Regions from separate parts of the Homo sapiens genome. Here region 2 is linked to region 1. The links come from fine-mapping of genetic effects on gene expression. A gene starts in region 1. The other region holds a variant in brackets. All regions are shown on one strand. Distances are from middle to middle.

Evidence for each region. PIP is the estimated chance that this variant, and not a neighbour inherited with it, causes the effect.
Region 2: its variant is fine-mapped to the expression of ARMC8 in blood mononuclear cells (TOPMed, PIP 0.93).

What each region holds. Positions count from the first base shown.
Region 1 is chr3:138,181,492-138,191,655 of GRCh38, forward strand. It overlaps ARMC8 (armadillo repeat containing 8), which reads left to right and starts at 5,810. Exons shown (of 22, transcript NM_001363941.2): 1 at 5,810-6,108. The coding sequence starts at 6,064.
Region 2 is chr3:138,292,121-138,302,284 of GRCh38, forward strand. It overlaps ARMC8 (armadillo repeat containing 8), which reads left to right. Exons shown (of 22, transcript NM_001363941.2): 22 at 3,739-6,253. The coding sequence ends at 3,772. It overlaps NME9 (NME/NM23 family member 9), which reads right to left. Exons shown (of 11, transcript NM_001349018.2): 11 at 8,879-9,584. The coding sequence ends at 9,520. Among named protein-coding and RNA genes, the nearest start is that of NME9, 33 kb to the right of the region's middle. The variant T/C (reference allele first, on the strand shown) is at 4,227.

The DNA of each region.
Region 1 (10,164 bases):
ACCCTCTCACTTACCACCCTACAGTGTAGTGACTTGTTAGCTTGACTCTCTACTTCTTGCCTGAAAGCTCTGTGAAAACAGGGAATATATCCATCTTGTTCATAATTGTATTCCACTCCTGGGCATTGTGCCTGGCACATAGTAGGTACCTAGTATATCTCTATCTATCTATCTATCTATCTATCATCTATCTATCTATGTTTTGTCAAATGAATAAATTTCCAGGATCCTTAGCTAGGTTCTCTTTTGTGAAATTCTTTTCATTATTAAAATAAATTAAAAGAGTTTCTTTTTCATTATTAAAGAAAAACAGTTGCTCAATCCACAGTGACTCAATTTTTTACACTTACATTTTTCATTGTGTATTTCCTAAAAACAAGGGCATTCTTTCCATGACAGCAGTACAATTATCAAAATCAATACATTAGCAATGATACCTTATCTACAGACTTTATTCAAATTTTTCCAATTTTCCCATTGATGTCCTTTATAGCAAAAGAAAAAAAAGTTTTCCCTTTTCTGAGATCCAATTACAGATCACAGGTTGCATTTAGCTGTCATATCATTTTGGTGTCCTTTAATCTGAAACAATTCCTCAGTTTTTCTTTCATGATATTTTTGAAGGGTATAGGTATGTTATTTTGTAGAATATTTCTTAACTAGGGTTTATCTGATGTTTCCTCATGATTATATTCATGTAGTTTTGGCAAGAATACCACAGAAGTAATTTTGTGTTCTTCTCAGTGCATGATATCATGGTGTTTATTGCATTACTGGTGATACCAATTACAATGACTTAAATAAAATGTTACCTACCATTAGTAGGTATCTAATGGCAGGTACTCTACTATCCTTAGTATCTTGTAGAGTGATACTTTAAGACTGTGTAAATATCCTGTTTCTCTTAATATTTTCACCACTTAGTTGTGGCATCCATTGATGATTCTTGCTTGAAACAATTATAACTCACACAGTTGTCAAGTGTTGATTTTCTTTTCTTTTTTTTTTTTTTTTTTTTTTGAGAGAGAGTCTTGCTCTGTCACCCAGGCTGAAGTGCAATGGCACGATCTCAGCTCACTGCAAACTCTGCCTCCTGGGTTCAGGTGATTCTGGTGCCTCAGCCCCCACATAGCTGGGATTACAGCTGTGCGCCACCATGCCCAGCTAATTTTTGTATTTTTAGTAGAGGCAGGTTTTTGCCATGTTGACCAGGCTGGTCTCAAACTCCTGGTCTCAAGTGCACCCGCCTTGGTCTCCCAAAGTGCTGAGATTACAGGTGTGAGCTACTGCACCCAGCCTGATTTTCTAATTCTATCATTTCTTCTACATTTGTAAGTTGGAATTCTACCATAGCAGTAATTCAATTTTTAAATGAGTATTTTCTTTTTTACTGTGGTTTCTAATTTTAAAACTTTGTAAACATCTCACTACTTCTATTTTAGCCATACACATATTTCTTTTATTTTCTTTTTAGTTTTTATTCTGAGACATGGTTTCACTCTGTCACCCAGGCTGGAGTGCAGTGCCACCATTTCAGCTCACTGCAACCCCTGCCTTCTGGGCTCAAGCCATCCTCCCACCTTGGCCTCCCAAGCAGCTGGGACCACAAGCTCAAGGCACCATGCCTGGCTAATTCTTGCTTTGGTTTTTTTTTTTTGGTAGCAAAGGGATTTTGCCATGTTGCCCAGGCTGGTCTTGAACTCCTGAGCTCAGCTCAAGTCAGCCCATCTCCGCCTCCCAAAGTGCTGGGACTACAGACATGAGCCACTGCGCCTGGCCAGGCATATACATTTCACACCCTCTGTGGACCTGATGAATTATTGATGCATTATTTCCCACCGCAAAAGCCCTTGTGGACTTTCCTTTATAGGTTGGTTGCTTAGATGAACATTCGGTAGTCTCATCTGGGAAAGTCCTATTAAGTCCCAGAGGACTGTAGGAGCTCTGGAAAGAACTTTGGAACCAGAGAAACCTGTACCAAAATTGATTCAGCCTCTTACTCCCCAAGCAACCTTAAGCAAATTATTGAACCTCTCACAGTCTCATTGTTTTTTTTTTGTTTTTTGTTTGAGACAGTGTCTTGCTCTGTCACCCAGGCTGGAGTGCAGTGGTGCGATCTCAGCTTACTGCAACTTCCACTCCCAGGTTCAAGCAGTTCTCCTGTTTCAGCCTCCCGAGTAGCTGGGATTGCAGGCAGGTGCCACCACGCCTAGTTAATTTTTCTATTTTTAGTATCGACGGGGTTTCACCATATTGGTCAGGCTTGTCTCAAATGCCTGACCTCAGGTAATCCACCCACCTCGGCCTCCCAAAGTGCTGGGATTACCGGCGTGAGCCACTGCGCCCAGCCTCACAGTCTCACTTTTATTCCTGTCTGCTGAGGGAAAGAACCATGTCTTTGTTCCACTTCAAAACTCTAGTTCAGTGCATTCACAAGAAAACCTGTAGTTAGTGTCTGTTGAACTGCATTGTATCTCCTCTATACTGTTGTTAGTCCATTTTCTTTTTTATTTAAAGTATTTCATCTGTTTTCCTTTTTTTTTTTTTTTTTTTTTTTGAGACCGAGTTTCGCACTTGTTGCCCAGGCTGGAGTGCAATGGCGCGATCTTGGCTCACCACAACCTCCGCCTCCCGGGTTCAGGCGATTCTCCTGCCTCAGCCTCCCGAGTAGCTGGGATTACAGGCATCCGCCACCATGCCCAGCTAATTTTTTTGTATTTTTAGTAGAGACGGGATTTCTCCATGTTGGTCAGGCTGGTCTCGAACTCCCGGCCTCAGGTGATCCACCCACCTCGGCCTCCCAAAGTGCTGGGATTACAGGTGTGAGCCACCGTGCCCAGCCCGTTTTCAAGTCTTTTTAAAGATTCTTCTAAATTTCTTTTGGGACCATTCAGGTTTTGGATTATACCTATCTCCCCACACTTTAAACTTTCCTATTTTTGTATAGATACATTTCTCTCTGGCTTTGTTTCTCATCTTAGGCAGTTCCACAAAGATATTTATAAAGATTTTTCAGATTTTTTTCTGGCTACTTCTTGTTTTGCATTTCATTTTTTTTCTTCATTAAACTCACACTTTGTTGTCTTTTTTTTTTTTTTTACAGAAATTAATACTGCTCTAAGAGCCATGGAACGACAGGGAGAAGTTTCATTTCTGTTTGCAGAGTAGTCAGCATGGATATTTTCCTCTCCTCACCACAGTGCCAAATTTAACTGTTTTTGTTTTTTTCTGCAACCTCCACTTCCCGGGTTCAAGCAATTCTCCTGTCTCGGCCTCCCGAGTAGCTGGAACTACAAGTGCATGCCACTATGCAAGGCTAATTTTTGTATTTTTAGTAGAGATGGGGTTTCGCCATATTGGGCAGGCTGGTCTTGAACTCCTGAACTCAGGTGATCCATCAGCCTCAGCCTCCCAAAGTGTTGTGATTACAGGTGTGAGCCACCGCGCCCATGCTTAACTGTTTTGTTATCGTCACATGCAGGCTGAATCAAAAATTCCTTTTATCTTCCAATTTCTACTCATTACTTAAGAGTGTACCTAAAGTTATTTATCAGCAAAATTTGAACTGGGAGCAAGATTCCTGATCTCCAAGCTTAGGAGTTGGCTATTCAATGCTTTCTTCCTGTAAAATGTCTATGTCAGTCTTCTGGATATAAAACAGGAAAGCCTGGGTAACAGACAGAGGTGTGAGATGTCTTGAGTCACATTTCTAGCTCCTCCCCGCTCGGATTTCAGCCACAGCAGCAGTGACAGTTCTGTGCAAGCTCAGATTTATGCTGCCTATATCCCACCCTAAGATGAAACCTGCAGACTCTGCTTTTTTGTATCAGGTTAAAGAAGCCCGTTCTGTTCTGGGCACAAATATAATCCAGGAGGGCAGGGAGTTAATAGCCCTAGGGAAATCCTCAACCAATACATATGGTATTGGTGGATGAATGCTGTAGCTTCAAGATGGACAATCCAGAGAGGTATTCTGTATGTTTTCAGAGGTGATTGAGGAATAAACAGTGGCATCAATAATGGACAATTATCTTGAATATTTATTCTTTCTTTTTTCACTCTCCCTGACCTATCAATTTTGTTCCCTGAAAGCACTTACTAAATAAACAAAATGCACCCAAATCTTCGTCCCAGGCTCAAACTAAGCCAAAAATTCGTACAACAAACATTTACTAAGTGACTGTGCTAGGCACTGAGATAGACAACCTAGAAGATAAAACTCCCAGTGCCTGTCTTGAAGTGTATAGTGAGACAAACACGGAAACAATTAACAACAACAAAACCACCCTACAATTAAAGTGAAGTATGAAGGCATGGGGGAAAGGGTATCTAACCCATGCCTGGGGGAGACAATTCCTGGAGGATGTATTGCTTGAGCTAATGGATGGAGTGTGGATCAAATACAGTTATAATGACTCTATATACTATGTATTAGGGTTATGTTCTGCCCCATTGCAGTATGCAGTACATGATGTGATTTTAGGTGGTCCATGGATGGACATTTAAACTTTTTGTAGTTAATGTGTACTAGAATAAAAATAAGGAGCACAACAAACTTGATTTCACAGAGTATTATGGTTTAGGATAAAGCCAAAAATTTTTAATGAGTTGAAATTGGCTTTAAATAAAAATATTGAATGAATAATAATACCTAGGTGCAGATTGGCAAAGATTGTGTAGGTGGTGTACAGATTACCCAAGTTTCAGAAATAGTATTATAGCAGAAGGACTACCTAAAATAAAATTCCTGCCTTCCAGGAATTCAACAGTTTGTTAAGGAACACAGACCCATAAGCAGGGGTGGTAAATGCTACACTAAATTTGGAAACCAAGTACAGGAGGAAGACAGGAAAACAGTGAGGAGCAGAGTGCGGGAGAGGCTACCAGCTACAAGACCAGTTGGAAGGCTATTGCTGTAGTCCAGGGGAGAGGTTACAAGAGCCTGAATTAGGGTGTGGCTATAGAAATGGAAGGAATACAAGTAATGTTAACAGGCCAATTGCAACCATACTGTGAAAACCTTACTGGTTGCAAGCAGTACGAAGGTGAAACTTATCCAACCAAGTCAAGGGCAGTGTTGCACACACACACACACACACACACAAAGTAGTAGGACAGCTGAATTAATCAAGTATAATTGAAAGCATACTTTTATTTAGCTTCGGTTATGAGAGTGTTTTAGTGCGAAATATTTAGATATTTGCCCCCATTTTCCCCACTTAACTCAGAAGCTGGAGAAATGTTAACACATATTGTATAACGCTTTCTATGTTCTAGGTTTTTTCTGAGAGCTTCACGTTTGTTGACTCCTCTATCCTCATTAACCTTTATTTTATAGATGAGGAAACTCAAACAGAAGGTTAGATAACTTGCCCAGGGTAAAGCAGCTGATAAATCAAGTAGCTAGGAAGAAACCCAAGCATTCTGGCTATTCTTAACACTACACCAGAATAAACGGGGCCGGCACACAACGCTAAGGCAAGTCACGTATCTGTATCGGATCGTGAAACAATCACTCTTACGGTTGGCAAAGGTTCTGGGATCGCAATTTCCCCACCTATAAAATGGAGATAACGACGCCGGGAGTTTGGTGCAGAGAGAGAGAATGAATATGAAAGTGAACTTCAAACTATGTATGTGGCTCCACGTACTACTTTTTCCAAATATGAATACTGGAATCCATAAACTGCAATTTATCAGTCCGTAAAACTCGTAGCGTCAGGGCGAGACTCCGCCTCTGGGGCCCCGCCCACCGCGAGCGGCAGGTGGGGCCGGCAGATCTTCTTTGCGCATGCGGAAACCGCTGCCCGCTTCCACCTCTAACCCAGGCTCAGAGTAGCTGCTGTTTCTGAGAGAACGATTCGTAGGACAGCCCCTGACGCCATTCCCTTTTGCCCTTCTTTCTGCGGGCCTTTCCGGTACTTGAGCGGTGTCCAGAGCGTGGCCAGTTCTCGTCTATCTGGCTGCCTTTAGGGAGCGGTGCCTAGCGTTGGCCAATAGTTGGCTGTCGAAAGTGCCGGCCCCCGCGCCGGCGCCTGCAGCAGCCGGGTGGGAAGGCTCAAGATGGCGTGCTTGTTGGAGACCCCAATCCGCATGAGCGTCCTTTCGGTGAGTGACCCGCCGCGGCCGCCCGCCCGCCCTCCAGGAAGCCTCATCCCGGTCTCCACCATTCCCCCAAGCGTGGTGTGCCTCCTGGGCACCACCCCCTGGGGTGGACCCCGGCTCAGTCTCGGGCCAGGGAGTGAGCGAGGGTGGAGAGGCGGGATAGACGGGCAGAGGGGACCGCGGCCGAGCCAAAGACGTTTCCAACTCCGGGAGCTCCCGCCGGTGCGGGTTCCCAGGATGGCGTCTGGCAGGCGGGGTGGCTGGGCTTATAGACAACTGGCTGGGCGGCGCGGCTTGGACTTTGCCAAGCGTTTCACTGAGCCTTCCTTTTAGCGATGCCGCTTCCCGGGGGCCGAACGCTCTGCCTTGTGAAGCGCCGGGCTTGCAGCCGGCCTGAGAACGAGCGCCCACTCAGCTCTCCCGGGCTTTGGCAAGAAGAGGTGCAGGCTCCTTGGCCCCCATTTCCTCAGAGCTGCCAGGCCAAGTCTGTGCGGCTTCTATCGCGTCCCAGCACCTGGGCACCGGCTGAAGCAGTTTGCTTTTTGGCAATGGTGATTCGTATCAGCTGCAACTCTTCCTAGTGTGTGTGGTTTTTTAAGCCCCTTTCCTCCGCTCTGCTCAGAGGTCGCGGCTCTGAGTCAGAGGAACTCTATGTTCCCTGTGCCTGGTATTCCGTTTTTCTTTAAGGGGAGTCAAACATTGAAGGGGGGAAAAGGGGGTGAGATTTATTTCCCCATTGTTGAAAGAAGGGAACGTATTGACATGCCAGGAAGTAAAACCTGTTTTTTTTTTTTTTAAAAAAAGTTTTTTTAAAGAAAAAGACGACTTTCACCTTTCACTATGTTGCTCTTGAACCAGGACCAGGAATGAAAGTTACTGGGAGATAACTTCGAAGGATTTTGCAACAAATTCGAGCTGTCCGACTCTGAGAATGGTCAGTTTACCAATGGTTCATTTGCTATTGTTGGAAACAAGCAGGCAAATACTGATTGACCATCTTTTAGACTTGTGGAAGCCAGTCTGATACTGAGAGGGTAGTTGGATTATAAATGACTTGTCGGGTTCCTAGAGTCTTGTAACTACAACCGGTTTCTTTTCTCTTCTCTGACTTGTCCCACAAACAAACTCACCTATCTGAAAACACCTAGGACATTTGCTTATGATTCAGGGTTAGAGCAGTGTGGCAGACCTCAACCTTGAAAAGGCTTAAGTTGTCAATACAATAATAATTTTGTGAGGCTGTCAACAGATTTTTCCCCTGATCCATTTTAGCAGTCATTTTTTCTTATTTTTAAACTGCAACTAAGGAAATACTGTTTACCTAAGTATTAGATCAGATTAGCCTGTTACTCCATCACTGACTGTAATACCCAGGAATATTCTGTGGGAGTGCAGGCCAATGACTTTTACCTCATTATGTTAAAAAAAAATAGTATGTGTCTTGGCTGTTCTCAGTTCTCCTTTAATTATTCATTTAGATTTCATTTATCCTTCAGTTCACCTGAAGTTTACTTTTTGGATGTTGTCAACTTGTATAATGCATATGATTGAAAGTTTTCATTTGTTTCACTTCCTTGGTAAATAATATTTTCTGCTTATTTTATTCAAAAACTTCTTGAAGAGTATTTTCTATTAATACTTCTATTTAGGATTTGCCTTTAGCCCTAGTCTCATTAGGGGCTTTTTTTTTTCTTTAATTAAAAAAAAAGGATTTCCGTAGTCCCAAAGTCTGGTCTATCAGATCTTCACTCCTAGAGCCTTGGGGAAGTAGGAGCTTTTGGATAAATGATTTAAAATGTTTCAATTCACTGATTTTACTAATTTAAAGTGAAACCTGTACCTTTCAAAGTACTACCCAGAGCACCATGTTTTGAAATGCAAACTAGAACAGGAAACATTCATCAGAAATTATCTTGAATGGTTGATTCCTTTAATAAGCTACAATGTACCAGTTACGTACAAGCTCTGTATTGTATACGTTAGAGAATGCAAGGATGAGATCAGAAATGCGTTTCAGGAGCTCATAGTCTGGGTGACGCTATAATTTGATAAACATAATTTCAGCAAGGAGGCATTCAAGTTGTTTTAAAGGATTTCCATTTGAGTCTCTTTATACCTTCTCCTTGGGAAATCTCATTGATTTTCCTGTACCCTTAACTGATCAGTTCACACATCTGCATTGCCAACCTTGACTTTCTTCTACATCTAGTCTTACATCTTAAATTGTGTGGATGACACCCATCGCTTCCAATAAAGCACATTCCTTCTCCTAAGGGGAATTAGTTATGAGTTCCCAATTTCTGTTAATGGTGTTATCTTTCACTGATAAGTAACTGTTAAACCTCCTGAATAATCTCTGATTCTTCCTCCTTTCATCCCCCTGTATCTACCAGTTGTTAAGCTCTGTTGCTTCTTTATTCTTAGTGTTTCTTATATCTTTCTCTTCCCATGACCACCCTCATTCAGGACTTTGTTGTTTTGTGCCTGCACTACCACAGCGTCCTTTTAATTATTTTTACTGTCTTTAATGTCTTACACTCTCAGTGCAAGTCCATGTCTACTTAAATTTTCCTAAAGAACTCTTCCTACAGCCGCTCCTCGGTTTCTTTTCTTGATTGAATTTGTTTTGCCCAAAGGCCCAAGTTTATATTCAGCTTCAGAGTTGAGATTCTTTATTTTCTTATCTTTTTTTTTTTTTTTTTTTTTTGAGATGGAGTTTTGCTCTTGTTGCCCAGACTGGAGTGCAGTGGCGCAATCTCGACTCACTGCAACCACCGCCTCCGGGGTTCAAGCGATTCTCCTGCCTCAGTCTCCTGAGTAGCTGGGATTACAGGCATCCACTACCATGCCTGGCTAATTTTTTTGTATTTTTAGTAGAGACAGAGTCTCACCATGTTGGCCAGGCTGGTCTCAAACTCCTGACCTCAAGTGATCCACCCACCTTGGCCTCCCAAAGTGCTGGGATTACAGGTGTGAGCCACTGCACCCGGCCGAGATTCTTTATCTTCTACATGAACCTGCTATCCTGTATAAACCGGCTTTCTCAGGTTAGAGTGATACAGAATTCTTCCAAACTCCAGTAAATCTTATTCTTCTTACTCATTTGTACATATGAATTTTAACTTTGTATATATATATTCTGTACATCTACTTTGAGCTTCTGCCATTTGCTAGGCAAGCATGGTGTTGAGTTTGGGAATACAGCCGTAAGCTACACAGACCTCTGTCCTTTTGGAAATGTTAGCCTAGTGGGAAAAATAGATATCAAATAATCACACAGTTTGTGAATGGTGATTAGTATTATGAATGAAGTATATAGGGTGCTGTTCAAAACATGTCATAGAGGAAACTGATCTAATATGGAGGGCAATAGGAAGAACTAGGGAAGGTTTCCCTGAAGAAGTGATGCTGAGCTGAAAGTTCAAGGATAAGTAAGAACTAACTAGAAAAAGTGACAGAAGAAGAGCATACAAGGCAAAGGGAACTGCTTTTGCAGAGGTCTTTAATAATACTCTATCTTGTCGTATTAGAGAGTAAATTAATTCAGAAGTAACACTTTGTCTTGCAAATCCTAGGTACTCAGTAAATGTTTGATTGAACTATCTATTTTGGAGGGTTGGACAAACTCTCCAGCCCTGTTTCTAGACTGCACTATGACCACCCCATCCCTCTTTGGTTTGCATTTAACATTACAACATCACCCTTTTCAACAAATTCATAAATTTCTGCAATGTTTTCTATACTTTTGAATTATGTTGATTGCATTTTTAAAAACATTTATTTTGAAATAATTATAGATTCACAGGAAGTTGCAAAGATAGTACAGACAGGTCCCTGTGTACACTTCACCCAGTTTCCCTCATAGGTTACATCTTATATAGTTACATTATAGTATCAAAACAAGGAAATTGATCTTGGTATAAGTATGTATCTGTTTCTGTATCATTTTATCACATGTTTATTTGTGTTACCATTACCACCACTGTCAAGATACAGAACTATTCCGTCACCGCAAAGATCTCCCTCATATTCCCTCTTTATAGTCCCACCTACCCAGCC
Region 2 (10,164 bases), 110 kb after region 1:
TCTGCCTCCTGAGTTCAAGTGATTCTCCTGCCTCAGCCTCCCAGGTAGCTGGGATTACAGGCGCCTGCCACCACGCCCAGCTAATTTTTTTGTATTTTTAGTAGAGACAGGGTTTTACCATGTTGGCCAGGCTGGTCTCAAACTTCTGACCTCAGATCATCCACCCACCTCGGCTTCCCAAAGTGCTGGGATGACAGGCGTGAGCCACCACGCCGGGCCCTGATTTGAATTTTTAAAAGATCACTCTGGTGACTTACAGAGAACCATCTGTAGGAGGGCAAGAATGGAGGCACAGAGACCAGTTAAAGGCCATTGTAATAATGTCGGTAAGGGAGTGGGGGGATTAGTATTGGAAGTATTGAGAAGTGGTTGGATTCAGGATTTAATCTGAAGATAAGCACCAACGGGACTTACTCACAGATTCAGTACAGGATGTTAAAGAGAGGAAAGGAAAATGTCTAGGGTTTTAGCCTGAGCAACTGGACAGAGGGTGTTGCCATATACCAAGATGGTGAGGAATATAGAAGTGGGTTGCGGTAGGGAGCATCAAGAGTTCTTGTTTGGGTATGCCAGCGTTAAGATGCATATTAGATATCCAAGGGACTTGGAAGAGCAGGGCTATAAATCTGAATGGTATTTAAAGCCATGGAGCTGGATGAAGTCTCTTAGAGCAAGTAAAAAGAGAGAAAGGAGGACTAAGGACCAAGATCTAGAGTCCCTCCAGCATTTAGGCAGTGATGAGAAAGATGCAGCAAAGGAGCAGAAGGAACAGCTAGTGAGGCAGGCAGAGACTCAGGCGCATAAGGTGTCCAGAAAACAAAGGAAAAAGATGCCTGGACGGTGGCCGTTTATCCTTCAAAACTCATATCAGGTTGCTATGTCCTCCAAAAAGCCTTGCCTGACCCACTCTCCACCCTCCCCTCCAGGCTTTGCCAGGGATGCCTTTTGTGCTCCTGTAGCATCTGTAGAACACGTCACACTGTGTCTTGGCTGTCAGGTTGTCTGCTCCACTGAAGGGGAGAGGAACTTAACTAACTCCTCTGAAGTAAATGGCTCTTCCAGATTGTGAAGCACACAGGACAGGCTAGGCCTCTGCTTCCCCGAAGCTTACCATCCTGTAGGCTAAAGAAGAATAACTAGGCTGGGCGCGGTGGCTCACGCCTGTAATCCCAGCACTTTGGGAGGCCGAGGTAAGCGGATTATGAGGTCAGGAGTTCGAGACCAGCCTGGCCAACATAGTGAAACCCCGTCTCTACTAAACTCCAAAAATTAGCAGGGCATGGTAGTACGTGCCTGTAGTCCTAGCTACTGGGGAGGCTGAGGCAGGAGGATCACTTGAACCCAGGAGGCAGAGATCGTGGTGAGCCGAGATTGCACCAGTGCACTCCAGCCTAGGCAACAGAGCAAGACTGTCTCAAAAAAAAAAAGAAAAGAGGAAGAAGAACTAAAAAACTGCAGCCCAAGGCTGCTGGTCAGATGAGTGTACCATCAAAGTCAAGTCCATCCACATGCTGAAGGCTGGATCTGAGCTTGTACCTTGAGGACTGGAACCTCCACCTCCACAGCTGCTGGCATAAACAGTGGGCTCTGTCAGCCCATCTTTTCTACCTGAGAGCCAGGTTGTTCACTGGGGGTTTTATCTCATATTTATTCAGAAGTAAAAACAAATTTTACTTAAAATCATCTCAAGGATGACATAGGATGGTAGGATAGGCCTTACCAGCATCAAGTGGGATAGGTTTAGCCTGCTTGCTTAGACCACTCTGGTGCTGTTTTCACATAAGTTTTTAGCTCTTCTTAAACGTAAACCGTAAAATAATAGAATCAAGGTCTGAGCTACCCAACCTGAGTCCATCTAAGAAAGGGTGATCTTGCCTCCAAAACCATTCTTCTAAAAAGACTCCTTAGATAATGACAGTAGAAAGACAATAAAGGTACAGTCTCTGAGACCCAAAATAATCAAACCTAGCCAACCTCTGAATAAGATCCAGAAGGAGTTTGAATTTGGCAGATTTAAAGAGCAATACAGAATTTCAATCAAGACCCTCAGTTAAGTACAGTAAGGTCTATCACCTGAAGAATATATCTCTCAGGTTCCTTTTGTCGTTAAGACTTTGATCCTTTGACTTTCAGATGCTTACAGATGAGAAGCTATTGCTAACCAGCCCTCTCCACCCAGGCTTGGAGGGCTTCAGGGTTGCAGGGTCCCAGAGCTCCCGCCTCCATCAGAACTGTTCTTCTCAGCCTCTTTAAGTATTTGGGGAGTCAGGTGGATGGTCTGTGGCATCATTCATAAACTTGTTTCTGAAAATGTCCTTGTAGAACCCTACTTGCTCATAACTTGGAGATAATCTTTCTAGAGCTTTCTGTTCTGATGGATTGGACTATTCACAATATCATCTTTAGAGTCTTATATAATTGCAAGAATACACCTTAGTATACCACTTAAAAAACTGTTGTGTCCATTACTGCAGAAACTGCACTTGAATCCAGCTTATTGTATGCATAGTCTACTTGGTATTAGTTTGATCAGCTATTGTACCTGAACATTGTAGACTTTCTTTCCATAGCTTAGAAGAGACCATTGCTGAAACCTGACTTCCTAACTCCCACGATTACAGCCTCTTTAGAAACTTTACCATGTTTGTGATAGGAATAGTAAAGGAGGCCTCCTTGGGCCCACCTCAAAGGAGGCCACTTTTACAAGGATCAGGATAGATTAAGTCACTGTTCACATTATTTTTTGGTTTGTTTTTTGGGTTTTTTTGTTTGTTTTTTGTTCTTTTTTTTTTTTTGAGATGGAGTTTCACTCTTGTCGCACAGGCTGGAGTGCAATGGCACCATCTCAGCTCACTGCAACCTCCACCCACCAGGTTCAGGCCATTCTCCTGGCTCAGCCTCCGAAGTGGTTGGGATTACAGGTGCCCGCTGCCACACTCGGCTAATTTTTGTATTTTTGGTAGAAACAGGGTTTCACCGTGTTGGCCAGGCTGGTCTTGAATTCCTGACCTCAGGTGATCTGCCCTCCTCAGCCTCCCAAAGTGCTGGAATTACAGGTGTGAGCCACAGCACCCGGCCTACATTCTATCTTTTCCTTTCCACCTGGCCACCTTCTTCCCCCATCACCGTAACAACACACATCTCACATTGATCAGTTATGGTGTCATCAGGTGTGATGAGAAGAACAAGATGAAATTGTAGCCTTCTTCCACGGTTCTGAGGCATGTGAAGCATAAGACAGCCTCATCCCATGGGCTCTTGGCCCCTTCCATGCACCTTCTAATCACCTCAACACCATTTCCTCGGTCAGTTTTCTTATTTGCTTCCCAGAACCCTAAGTGTTCTCCCTAGTGTTGTGCCTCACTGCATAAAACCTACATGGCAGTAAGAAAAAGTAAAGAATGTAAGACCTATCACAACTATATGCCAGTGACAAAAGAAAACATAGAATGTCAGCACATACCAGGGACTGTGGAATGTCACTGAGCTGCAGCAGGTTTAAGTGCAGGAACAGCCCTCTGAGAGATCCACAGGAAGAAGAATATAGCCAGAGTAGATTTCAGGTGTCTACCCACTGCAGATCTCTTCCCCTTAAGGTAGGTGCCCACCTGGGCTCACCCCAATTCCCTCTGGAGATTTACTTTTTTAGACTTCCCCAGCTATCATCATTGAACCATAGGGTTTTTTACCCCAATTACAATTCTGAGATGATGGCTAACAGGAATTTTGTGATTTCAGGGCAAAGATGGCACTGCAGCAGTACCTGGCATGATGGGAGTGCCCCTGGGCACCTGCGAGCATCCCACCTCCTTGTTTAAGGAAGTACAGGAACCAGCCTCATTTGATTCCTTCTATTTGCACAAGTCACCTTGGACTGCAGGGAGCTGTTTTGCAAAAGCAGTTTAGTAGGCTTAGATCTCAAATTCATCTTGAGAACATTTTTTTGAGGTAGTAATTTCCTCAGAAGACTCTTGTGTTTTGTTTTGGTTTTTTTTTCTGAGCTACTCGGACTCTTTATTAGAACAATCAATCATTTTCCTTTGGACCTACAATTTTTGCCTATGCTGCAGCCACTTTGTGAGTGAGAATGAATATGTCTGTGTGAACACACAGGCATGCGTGTGTATGTGCACGTACATGGGCCAGAATGAATGGATGTGTGTGTGTGAGGGATACCTCAGATTTTTCTTTTCTTATTTTGTGTGAAAATCTCTTTTCTACAGATT[T/C]TCCAGGGTTTAAGCATTGCTTGCTGTATAAAAAACTTTACTGAATTATATACAGTTTGAATGAAATGTTATTTTAAAAACAAAACAATTGTTAAGTGTTCCATAAAGGTTATGTTGAATTTTGGTCAGATGAATATTTGTAAGTAAAAAATATATGCATTTCTGAACCTCAACTTACATAGATTTTCTTTATATAAAAAAAAAGAAAAAAAAAGAAAAAGTTGGCTATAGTTGGCCTGATTAACAGGCACTATACATGGTGCTGTGCAAAATAGTAAGCTAGCATCTTACTGCCGTCAATATTAGCAGGTACAGAGCCTTTTTTCATCCTAATTCAGTAAGTTCTCAGGCTTCCAAGTCAAATGGAGAAGTAAAGTGAGGCAACAGATTCACCATAGGCTTTTTGAAGCATCAAAGGGAAATATAACTACTGATAGTGAAAGCCCAGCCATGACCCAGATGGGCTTACCCTTGACAGGAACTGGGGACCAAGAGCCTCCCAATTGCCCTAACTCCTGTCATTGGTATTAGCAATATCTGGCCAGATTTAGAACCAGTCATGGAAACTTGTGCTCAAACTAAAAGTAGGTCATCACTTCCCAGAAACAGAATACCTTGTGCTTCCTGAAACAGCATATATCACTGTGAAACTAAAGAATATTCTACAGACACCCCTGTAGAAAGAAACAAAGAACAGGATAGTTTAGAAAGCTTTCTGTTAGCTGTATTCAGCAAATTTCATACTAGTTGCTCAGGACTGCTAGTTGGTATGCTTTTGTAAAACGAGATTGAAATTTAATAAAAGATGCAACTAAAATCTTTCCTGCATGAAGCTAAAAGCACTCAAGTTGAGAGAGGGGCAAGGGAATCTCCCCAGGATGACTGAAGATGACTTCTTTTTACAGCAAGTACTGTTAGCCTTTCTGCACCCCTTAGCTTGGCCCCTGCTCCAACTTCTGGGTCAGCAGCAAGGTGAACTCAACAGAAGTTGCTCTTGACTGTTTGAAGGTAGAAGCAGCCTACCTTTTCTCTTTGCTAAAAGAAGGTCAAAGGCTTCGCAACCAGGATGCAAGGTCTGCGGTCCAGAAGCTTGCGGTGAGTGTGTGCCACTGATGGAGCTCCAAGCCCACCCACCAGCCACTCCTGATGGGGTTGCTCACACTGCAGCTGCCCTATCACCACCCTGCACGTTCCTTGGAAGATTTAAATGTTTGGTTGCAAATGAATGTTTTAAAAATGTATTTAATGCAATTTTTCCTGCTCTCAACATGACCACCCAAGATTCAAACACAGAGACTTCCAAGTTACTATTTTTTCAGAACATCACCGATTTTAAAATCTGTCACAACAGGACTTGGTTTTGTGCAGATATCAGAGTGCTAATGTGAGAAACCCAGTTAAAAGAAAACTTAGTTTATTGGGAAGAAAGCCTCAGGCCCACTCGTTTCTAGAACTGTGAAAATATCCTTGGTTGGCATTTTTAACACAAAACACTATAGTGTTGGTATTAAATAGTACTAGGTAAATATAAAGAAACCAATAATGAATTGCTGAGACAATCTTGAACCCAAATAGCATTAGAAAGCTGAAGGCCCAATGAAATAACACTTTCACACTTAAACTCTGTGGATAAATTTTGCCTGTGGGTATAAACAGATGGTCAAATTAAAAATGCTTTACTATAATTAACTTTTCTGATTTGAATGAAGGGAAATGTATTTATTGAAACAAAGCTGTTTGCTGCTTTATGCAGGTGCAGTGTTCAGTCAGCAAGGAAGTGGGAAGAGTGGACATGGTATTGTGTCTACACCCAAGTTCTTAACTAAGCTTCTCGCTCTAATACTGCATTCTGTTTCTCCTTTTGTGCCCTGATTGTAATCCAAAATTTATGAACTAGAAAAGAATGTCCAATTTAATAAGTTGCATTTTTTTTTCTTTAAGCACTTTATTCAGAACAATACATGTTCTTCTGGTAGTGTTTGGATAATATGATTTTAACACATGCTAATAAAAGCCAAGAAAAATCATGGCAACTTCTAAAAAGGAGTCTGTTTTCCAAATGTCTAGAACATTAGGAAACATCAGAAGATAATGTGTACACGCTTTTGGAACCTGTGATTCTTGGTAAATGAAGGGCTGGGAAGTGGCTTTGCATTTCAGAGTGGGACCCAGTGCCTTAAGGTAAGTGTGGTTCCCAGAGGCATCTGCAGCAGTCTGGGGACCCCTCTCTTTTTGGCCTCCTTCTGAAGGCCAGCAGACCCTTCACAGGTGGCCACTCCCAGCCACAAGATATCCCATCCCCAATATCATGTCCACCCCCTCCATCCTCTTCTCCTTAGGTATGCCCCATCTCCACTACCACCAGCTTGCATCTCCACTACCACAGTATGCAAGAGCTTGCTATCCCTCTGCAAGGACACACAGGTGCTCTTCGTCTACTACGCACTGCCACCTTTTCCCATCTCTGAATTGTAGGCACATCTCCTATCTCAAGGCCTCACTGGAAACAAAGCCAAGGACACCTGCGCCAGAGTGGCGGGAGGATGATGAGGTGGCTAGCAAGAGAGGGAATAATCATGGTGGGAACCTCTGAGAGGACCCAAGGTAAGGCGAAGAGAGTAGGAGCAGGGCCAAGCAGGCCCCTGTTTCCCATAACTACCACAGGAAAACTTGGAAGTGAGGTCTAAGGAGGGAAGGGGGACTCCCACCCCAGATCTTGATGGAGGGCTGACAGAACGGTTCCAATTTCTTGCCACCTGGGGTAGGAACTGGTGCTGTCCCCATCCTGCCCCTTGCCTGTTTACTGGGCAGAGAGGCACATGTTTATTTCCAGCATGAGAGAAGGTCCAGGATCTGGCTTTAGGGAAGGCTGAGGGAACCCCCCAAGGGCCACTGAGTGGACTACTAAGCCACCTTTTCTCTATCTCTGCAGCCCCTGGCTCCTGGCTTTGGCAAGCAATCTGCCCTCAGGCTGAGTGGAGGTCCAGAGCCAGTCCTTAAAACCACCCTCCTTGACTTCATGGAGCCCAGCCTGCCCTCCTCGTCAGGCACTCACACCCAGGAGCCGAGGGATCTTAAAGCCAAAAACAGCACCCATCCTTTACTTCCATATTTGCTTCTGTTGTGTGAAACCAGGCCTAGGGTCTCCGCCAGTGAGTTCCATCCTCTGGGAGTGGGCTGATATTTGAGCCACTCTCGGGAACCCCCTTACACCCCATTCCCCTGTTCCTTATGCCATGAAACTTGTGGACTCTTAGAGATGCCCTGCAATGCTGAACCCACAGCATCCCTGAGTCACCAGTAATGGGAGGAAGGGGCATGTCACCATTCCTCCCACTCCTGCCCCATCACCTAGTGCCCCACTTTGCTTTACCACTGCCCTGCCCAGCTACTTCATCCATCACTGACACAAGAACACTCCCCGCCGACAGGCTCAGTTCCCCAACCTCATTTTCCCCTCTCTCCCCTGCTTTGGGAGGTCCTGGTGGCTCCATCTCTCATCTCACCAATGTTGGAAGATCCTTGGCTTCCCAGATTCTGGGGAGATCAGATGGCTGTCAGCTGGGTGCACCCCCTCCAAGTAGCTCATTCAGAGCCACACACACCTGTGGTGTGGAAGCCCAGGCATAGGGCTTCTCCAAGTCGTTTGCCACTCGTGAAGTGGGCACAGACCATATGGGCCCCACTCTTGAGCCCACTCCCAAAGGGAAGAGCACAGCCCCATGGTGGGCTGTGAGTCTGGGGATCTGGAATAGTGCATCCAGCTTCCTGACAGGTCCTGTCAGTGAGGGCTCTGTTGGGCACATTGAGATCCTGTACAGGTTCCGATGAGCACTGTGGACATGTGTGTTTCCATCCAGGGGTGGCACGAGGTCCTGGGAAGGACAGTGGCCTTAAACAGTAGGGCCTACTGAAGGTCACTGGCCTTGGTTCCCAACTGTGGGGACTGACTTATCCGTGTGTCCCCTGAGCACAGAGTGTGTTGTGGTAGGCTGACGAAGTGTGATGCACCCACGAAAATGTCCTCTGGGAGCTAACTGCCCATTTAAAGAACCTCAAGTCATGGACAAAACCAGCAAGGAGGAAGACGCTGGCATTTGCTTCGTGGTGTAGAAAATGGCCTTCTCCTCAGATAGGAAAAAGTATGCCGGCACTTGGCAAATTTACAAATAAAGTCGTTAGAGGGGGTGGCATTGTGTGCTAATAATTCCCAAGTGGTCATAATAGCTACTTTTTACTGAAATCCTGTGTCCCTCCAGGGAAGAACTGCAGAGGGATGGCTAAGCCAGGCAATTCAGTGGGAGCTGAAGGCAACCTGGCCCCACTAGGAGCTCTCAGCTTTTAAATTTAAGTGTCAGCCAGAATCAGAAGCCAGAGAAATGGGGGAGGGATGCGTCAAGAAAATTAGATGAACCCTGGTTCCAAATTTAATGTCTGAGCATTGCTTTATGAACATGCCCTGGTAATGGAGAACTGCAGATGGGGAAATCTGGCAGCATTAAATGACTGTTGGTGTGACTTGGGCAGGCAGTGTGAGGAAGCATTTGGAGCCTATTTATATCTGCCTCGGCATCAGTGTGCCTGGAAGTGTCATAGTCAATCTTGCTGCACTGTTTTCAAGCTCATGGTTACCAAATTAAGTTCTAAAATTGTTTAATTCATAAGGTAGATTTATTGTTGGGGAAACACCATCTCATATAACCCAGTATCCTCTGAGATGACACTTATATCTCACAACAGGATGTAATAACTGATGTTCAATTATTTTGTAAAATCCCAAAGACAGAGAAAAAAAACTGCGTTCTACATACTGTTTAATAAGGCAGAAAAGTATATACTATTCTCTTTCTTTACTTTTTTTTTTATTATTATTATTAAGATGGAGTCTCACTCTGTCACCCAGGCTGGAGTGCAGTGGCATGATCTCGGCTTACTGCAACCTTCACCTCCCGGGTTCAAGCGATTCTCATGCCTAAGCCACCCGAGTAGCTGGATGACAGGTGCACACCACCACGCCCGGCTAATTTTTTGTATTTTTAGTAGAGACAGGGTTTCACCATGTTGGCTAGGCTGGTGTCAAACTCCTAATCTCAGGTGATCCACCTGCCTCGGCCTCCCAAAGTGCTGGGATTACAGGTGTGAGTCACTGCGCCCAGCCATATTATTTTCATTGTCTACAAAAGACAGCTAAACCAAAAAGTATTGGTACTCAAAAGAGTAAGTTCCGATTCCGGAGGTCTGTTTTGTGCAGTAGACCCCTGGTCACGTGCTCTGGAAGAGCAGCACAGCCATCTCAATCCACATCCTCAGGAAAGCAAAGCGCCTCAGTGGGCCCCGCTGTTGCTTCAGCCTCACCGCCTGTGGGATGACAGATGTTTGGTAGGACTCCTGAAACAGCCCTGTCCCAGACCTTCTGTCCCACCCACCATCCACAAAGAAATAGGAAGTTAAAGGTCAGAGCAGGAGGGTCAGCAAAGAAGTCCTGATACGTGTTAGGGACCAGGAATTAAATAAATTAGAATGGATAACATTGAGCATTTAATTTGTGTCAGATGCCAGACCAAGAGCTTTACATCCTGTCTTTCATCTTCACAACAGCTCTATGATGAAGATTTTTATTATGAAGCTATTTGTGGTTATGACGAGTCTATCATTATCTCCATTTCACAGATGAGGAAACTGAGGCCCAGAAAATGTAAGTAACTTTTCAGAGGCTCTTCAGCTGGGGAATAGTGGAGCCAGGATTCAAACCCGGGATTGTCTATCACCTTGACTCCTGCCTTTTTTTAGCAGGAATAGTGCTAACTACAGTGGAGGCATATGCTGCTCCCCAAAGCTGAGAGACAGTGACATATCAGAATAAATGGGCAGAACAGCACCCCAGCCAGGCTGCCAGTGTCCAAAGGAGGCTGTGCACTTATTCCCAGGATGTGGTCTG